Regions from separate parts of the Homo sapiens genome. Here region 2 is linked to region 1. A link means that fine-mapping ties the variant in region 1 to the expression of a gene that starts in the linked region. Tissue or cell type: whole blood. Region 1 holds a variant in brackets; the other region holds the start of a gene. All regions are shown on one strand. Distances are between the middles of the regions.

Region 1 (2,683 bases):
GGCTGAGTGCTTTCAGGGAAGCAACTAGGGGTCATATCTAACCTTTGTGAAGTAACTACGGGTCATATCTAACCAGAAATGGCTCCCTCAAAACACAAGATGTCCCAGTTTCGAGTCTACTCCTCATAATGAAAGGAGACAATCACAAGGGAAAATTGTTGAAGGTCTTGGGGAATCAAGTCTGGAAAAGGTAAGCAAGGGAGCCATGACAGCTGCCTTCAAATATCACCAGGGTCCAGGGAGAGGAGCCCACCCCCGGGGGCAAGGCCTCCAAACCCGCTGTGGTGTGGCTCATTTGCTGCCAGGCCCTCCCACTCTCCCAGCACTGCCTCAAGCATCGCCCTCGCATTCTACTCCAGGTGTTCATTCCCTCTGGTAGGAAACAGCTCCATGCAAAGAAGCCAACATTCATCAGCTATTCAGTCTGCAAATACTCATTGAGTGAGAACTAAATGCAGAGCACTGTTATAGGTGCTGGGTCAACAAAACTGCGTCTAGGGGAGAGTCAGACAAGAGGCAAGTCAAGAAATAGATAGCCCAGATCATTTTAGATGGTGATGAGTTGCACAAAGAAAATAAAGGGGACATGCTAACAGGACTGCTTTGTGGGCCGGCAGCCAGGCAAGGAAGCAACACTGGAAATGAGGCCTGGATGACAAGAAGCCATCTCAACGAAGATTTCACCCCAAACACATTGGAGAGCCTTTGGAGGGTTTTAATCAGGCAGGTGATGTGATATGATGTATCTGGAGGAGAATATTCGGCAGCTGTGTGGAGGGTAGCCTGGAGAACCCCAGAGTAGAAGCATGAGGACCAGTTAGGAGGCTGATGAGCCTGGTCTTATGTCAAATAGTGTGCTAGATTCCCTGCCTTCACAGAGCCCTCAGTCCAGTGGGGGCACAATTACCAGATATTTTCTCTATAATACAATGTTGTGGGCAAAAGACAAGCAAAGGCAGATGATAAGCACAAGATGCCCAGAGAGTACAGAAGGCACTTTTTGCCGTCTTATTGGCTGTGGTGTGGGGGAGGGGGTAGAGGGGAGCCGGGGGGCAGGGGTAGAGGGAAGGAGAGAGAAGGAAAGCTTGCTTGGACTAATGCCCAAGCTGAGTTTTCAGAGGGCAAGAATTGCACTTCC[A/G]TGTGCCCAGTGCTGTGTTAGGCAATAAAAGAAATCAGAGAAACATAGGAAGTAAGGGCTCTTGCCCTCCAGATTTTTAGTTTGCTTTATCTTAAAACTTGAAAGGCTTCTTGTGTTGGCCAAGTCAAAATGATGAGACCTAGCCATTCTCACATCAGGGGCTTCTGATAGTCATTTTGTTGAGCCCAGATCCTTCTCCTGAGCTCCAAGAGCCTGATGCACAGGCTGGCATGGCTTGGCTTGTGGTGTACTGGAAGCCTGCCTGAAATATCCTCCTGAGGGCAAAGTATTGCACATATAGCACCCAAAAGAGTGTTATTGGTGTCCTTTATCACTCAGTAATGCCTTTGCCCAGACAGCTTTGTCAGGCTCATCATTCCAGCAGCAGCCAGTGAGCAGAAGAGGGAGGTCAGCCCCAAATTGGAAGGGGCCTAAAGTCTACTCTTGATGGAAATACATGAGGAAGATATGAACAGGTGAGCTCCCTGGAGGATGTGACGGTTGAGTCAGGCCATGGTGTATAAGCAGGTGTTCTAGAGCCAGAGAAGGGCCCAGGTAGCCTAGTGTCTGCAACAGAGCAGACACAAAAAAATGTTTGTGAATGAAGGGATGAAAAGGCACTTCAGACAAAGAGAACAAGAGGACAGCAGGAGCAAAACCCAAGAAGTTTCAAAGCCGTGGAGAAACTAGAGACTGTTCTAGAGTGGCTGGAGAATAGGGCCTCTGGGGGTGGACAGATGGTGACAGTGAGACAGGGCCTCCAGAAGCAACAGGGCCAATCCCTGGGCTCTGTGGATCTAACAGTGCTTGTGTTCATTTGCTTGTTCCACGACACCAGCCACAGTCACAGGGTCTAGTCTCTGTGTATTCATGAAGGGACTGGAGATCACTTGTGCAAACAGCACACTATATACATGAAAAAACTGAGGCTCAGAGAAGGGAAGCCATTCGCCCAAACTCACAGAGCCAAGCAGTTGAGCTGGGAGTCTAACCAAGCTCATTTGATTCCAAGTCAAGGGCCCTTGTCATTGTCCTTAGGTGCCGCTGACTGATGGATTTTGACCAAGGTTAGCAGCCCTTAAAATTTTTCTAGCCATGATTTAAGTTCAATTTGTGGTTCAGTGGGCTATTTGGAAACAAAATTACAGCTGGTGAATGTTTTCACAATAGCAAATGTGCTGGACTTTTGCTCTCATCGGTTAGTTGTTGGTTTTTTTGTTGTTTTTTTTTTTAACAGATTCTAATACTACTATATATATCAGAAGTGGTCCCAAATCAAGGTAAGTGCATCAAGGGAGTGGCCTAGTTTGCAGAACAGCTTGGTCTAGTTCAAAGGCCTTTAGAGGAAGATATTGCATAACTTCCCTTGGTTCCTTATCTTACACTGGTCAACTTTAACTATCCAAGCCACCCCTAAATATAACCTCAGTCTGCTTTGGTTTAAAATAATCTATACCTATTGTGCTGTGGCAGAGGGTGGGTCAGCTACAATCGTTACCTCCTGTCTAAATTATTATCTTACTGTTATTGCTAATGTTTGTTGAG
Region 2 (2,683 bases), 24 kb after region 1:
ATAGTGTCATGGACTTTTTGGAATCCTTAAGCCTCAAATCCAATGGCTCAAGATGGAGGGGCTGGAAGGGAATGTGGGGCAGAGGCCAGGTGAGGGGTAAAGCAGGAAAGGCTTGTGAGAGGTAGGGTGGGATAACATAGATTTCTTTTTCTTCCTTTGGGTTTTCCAACCCTCCCTCCACACCGAGGAACCTCATTCCACAAAAGCATAAGAGAGAGGCATGAGGTATTGATGACTTTATTATTCTGCAGGTACATGTCCAGGGGCCCAGCCTCTGGGCCCAGTAACTCAGCTACTCTTTGTGGCTTTCTTCATGGCTTTTTTTGTGGGCTGCCACGCCCATCTTTATCACCAGAATGAGGAACTCCTGGAAGTTAACTGCACCATCAGTGTTGATATCCAACTCTTTGAACCAGACGTCTGCACCCTTTTTCTGTCAAGATTGAGGAGGAAGAAGCCAGAGTTTAAAGATCTCAGAGAGAGCCGAGGCATAGCCATCTATGAAGGGTGGCAGGGAGGACCGCTGGCCCAGGGCAGCCCCAGGACCAGGCAGAGAGCCCCCGCCACACCCAGCCCCTCCTCACCCTGATATACTGAGGACACTCGGTCTCTAGCAATTTCTTCAGGTCATCCCTGTAGACGGCATGGAAATTCCCCTTTATCAGGGAGTACTTGTGGTAGACGTCGATGATAGAGTTCAAGGCTTTCTCCAGCTCGGTCAACATGATGCCCACGGACTTGCCCCACCTGAAAAACAGAACCTTCTGGGGAATCCCATGGCAGGGAATTTGCATCTGGCCAGGGCAGTACGCAGAGGATTCATGCCCCAAGCGATGGCCTTGTCCTGGCCTGCACTCTCCAAATAACCAAACCAGCAGATGGCTATGGCTCTGGTGGGAAGGGTGGGATGATAGGGATACACGTGTGGGAAGGGGAAGGGTCCATTCACACAGAGACATGTGCACACACACGGGGCCCGTAGACTTTCCTTACCACCCCACCCTCTGCTCAAGAAAAGTCCAGCCTAGGAGACAATGTGCCCTTACCCACTGGAAGGTGCTGGAGGATACTCTCCTTCCTTATCCCTGCCTCACTCCCCACCTCCAGGAGTATCTTTGCTCCAGACCTCCCTGAGCTTTCTCTCTCCTCTCTCAGGAAGGCTGCTCCACTTCCCTGACCCTCCCCAAGAGAAGCCCAAAGTGCGGGGCCAACCCAGACAGTCCCACTTACCAGGTCTTCTGAAAGACAGCTGACAAGAGACATGCAGGGCTGAGAGGCAGCTCCTTTTTATAGCGGTTAGGCTTGGCCAGCTGCCCACAGCTTCAGGCCATCAGAGACAGCTTCTCCCTGCCAGAGTTGCTACAGTCTCTGGTTTCTCAACCAGGTGAATGTGGCAATCACTGTGCAGAATGAAAATTTTGGGTGGGGAGGTAGGAGAAGCGGAAAGAGGAAGGCATTTGCTGGGCAATAGTGCCCAGAAGGAAAAAGCAGGTAGGGGGGCTCTTTTTCTGGGCTGCTGGCATCCACTTGCTTGATCCAGCCAGATTCCCACTCCCATGCCCTCTCCACTATTGCGATTGCTAATCCCCTGCATTGGTGGTCAGGCCATACATCCCTGAAACTGAATTGAAGTTGAATGCATCATTTTGAGTGCATGCACTCAGTGAGAACATTCCTCCATGGCTTCTGTCAGAGTTTCAAAGGGTCCAAAGACCGCAAAAGGGTTGAGAACACGTGTCCTGGCTGATGGCTTTTAGTCATGAGAACTATTGTTCTCATTACTAAAAACTAAAACTATCGTTGTTGTTCTTTTGGGTGGGTGCTTTGTGGGGAAATGTGTTGTTGCCAAGGGCTATATCCATTCCTACCCTGCTGCCCACACTCCTCCACAGCTTTCCTGTTCTGTGAAGCTGGGGATGGACCATGCCCTGGGAGATGGAGGCTGCTTGGGGTCCCTCGGCACTTCACAAGGGCCTGAGCCATTGCATAAACACAGCAGGGAGCCTTTCACCCTCTCTTGGTTAATTATTGTGTCTGGGACCCCAGGATCACTGGCTGAAGAGAGGAAGCTAACTCTGAGGTAGTGGAGGGGAAGAGTTCTTTGGAGAAGCCAGACGCGCTTCATGCCTAAGAGGAGAAGAGGAGGTGGCCAATTCCCCAGGATTTCAGGAGGAACAAATCCTCTCCCCACCACTAACAAAATGCTACTCAGATTAACTGGCTTCCAACCTTGAAGACTGTGGTGTGTTTCTGTTGTTACAAAGAAAATATTTGTAAAACAAATATCTGATAAGGGATTAATATCCAGAATATAAAAGAATCCCTACAACTCAACAACAAAAAACAAACAAACCAATCAAAAATTGGGGAAAAGACTCAAATAGACACTTCTCCGAAGAAGATATACAAATGGTCAATAAGCATATGAAAATTACTAATCTTTAGGAAAACATGAAGCAAAACGACAATGAGATACCACCTGACACCTACAAGGATGACTACTACTTCTTTTAAAACCCAGAAAACAAGTGTTGGTGAGGGCATAGAGAATTGGAAGCCTAATGCACTGTTAGTGGGAATGTAAAATAGTGCAGCTGTTATGGAAAACGGCAAGTTTGTTCCTCAAATAAATAAACACAGAATTACCATATGATCCATCATTCTGCTCCTGGGTATATATGCA

What was found. PIP is the estimated chance that this variant, and not a neighbour inherited with it, causes the effect.
Region 2: it holds the start of S100A8, and the variant in region 1 is fine-mapped to the expression of S100A8 in whole blood (TOPMed, PIP above 0.99). The same link has a PIP of 0.9 or more in blood mononuclear cells and monocytes.

What each region holds. Positions count from the first base shown.
Region 1 is chr1:153,366,168-153,368,850 of GRCh38, forward strand. No RefSeq gene overlaps it. Among named protein-coding and RNA genes, the nearest start is that of S100A12, 8.1 kb to the right of the region's middle. The variant A/G (reference allele first, on the strand shown) is at 1,139.
Region 2 is chr1:153,389,811-153,392,493 of GRCh38, forward strand. S100A8 (S100 calcium binding protein A8) reads right to left here and starts at 1,263. Exons shown (of 3, transcript NM_002964.5): 1 at 1,231-1,263; 2 at 585-747; 3 at 222-433. The coding sequence starts at 725. The coding sequence ends at 293. RefSeq lists a silencer at 270-470.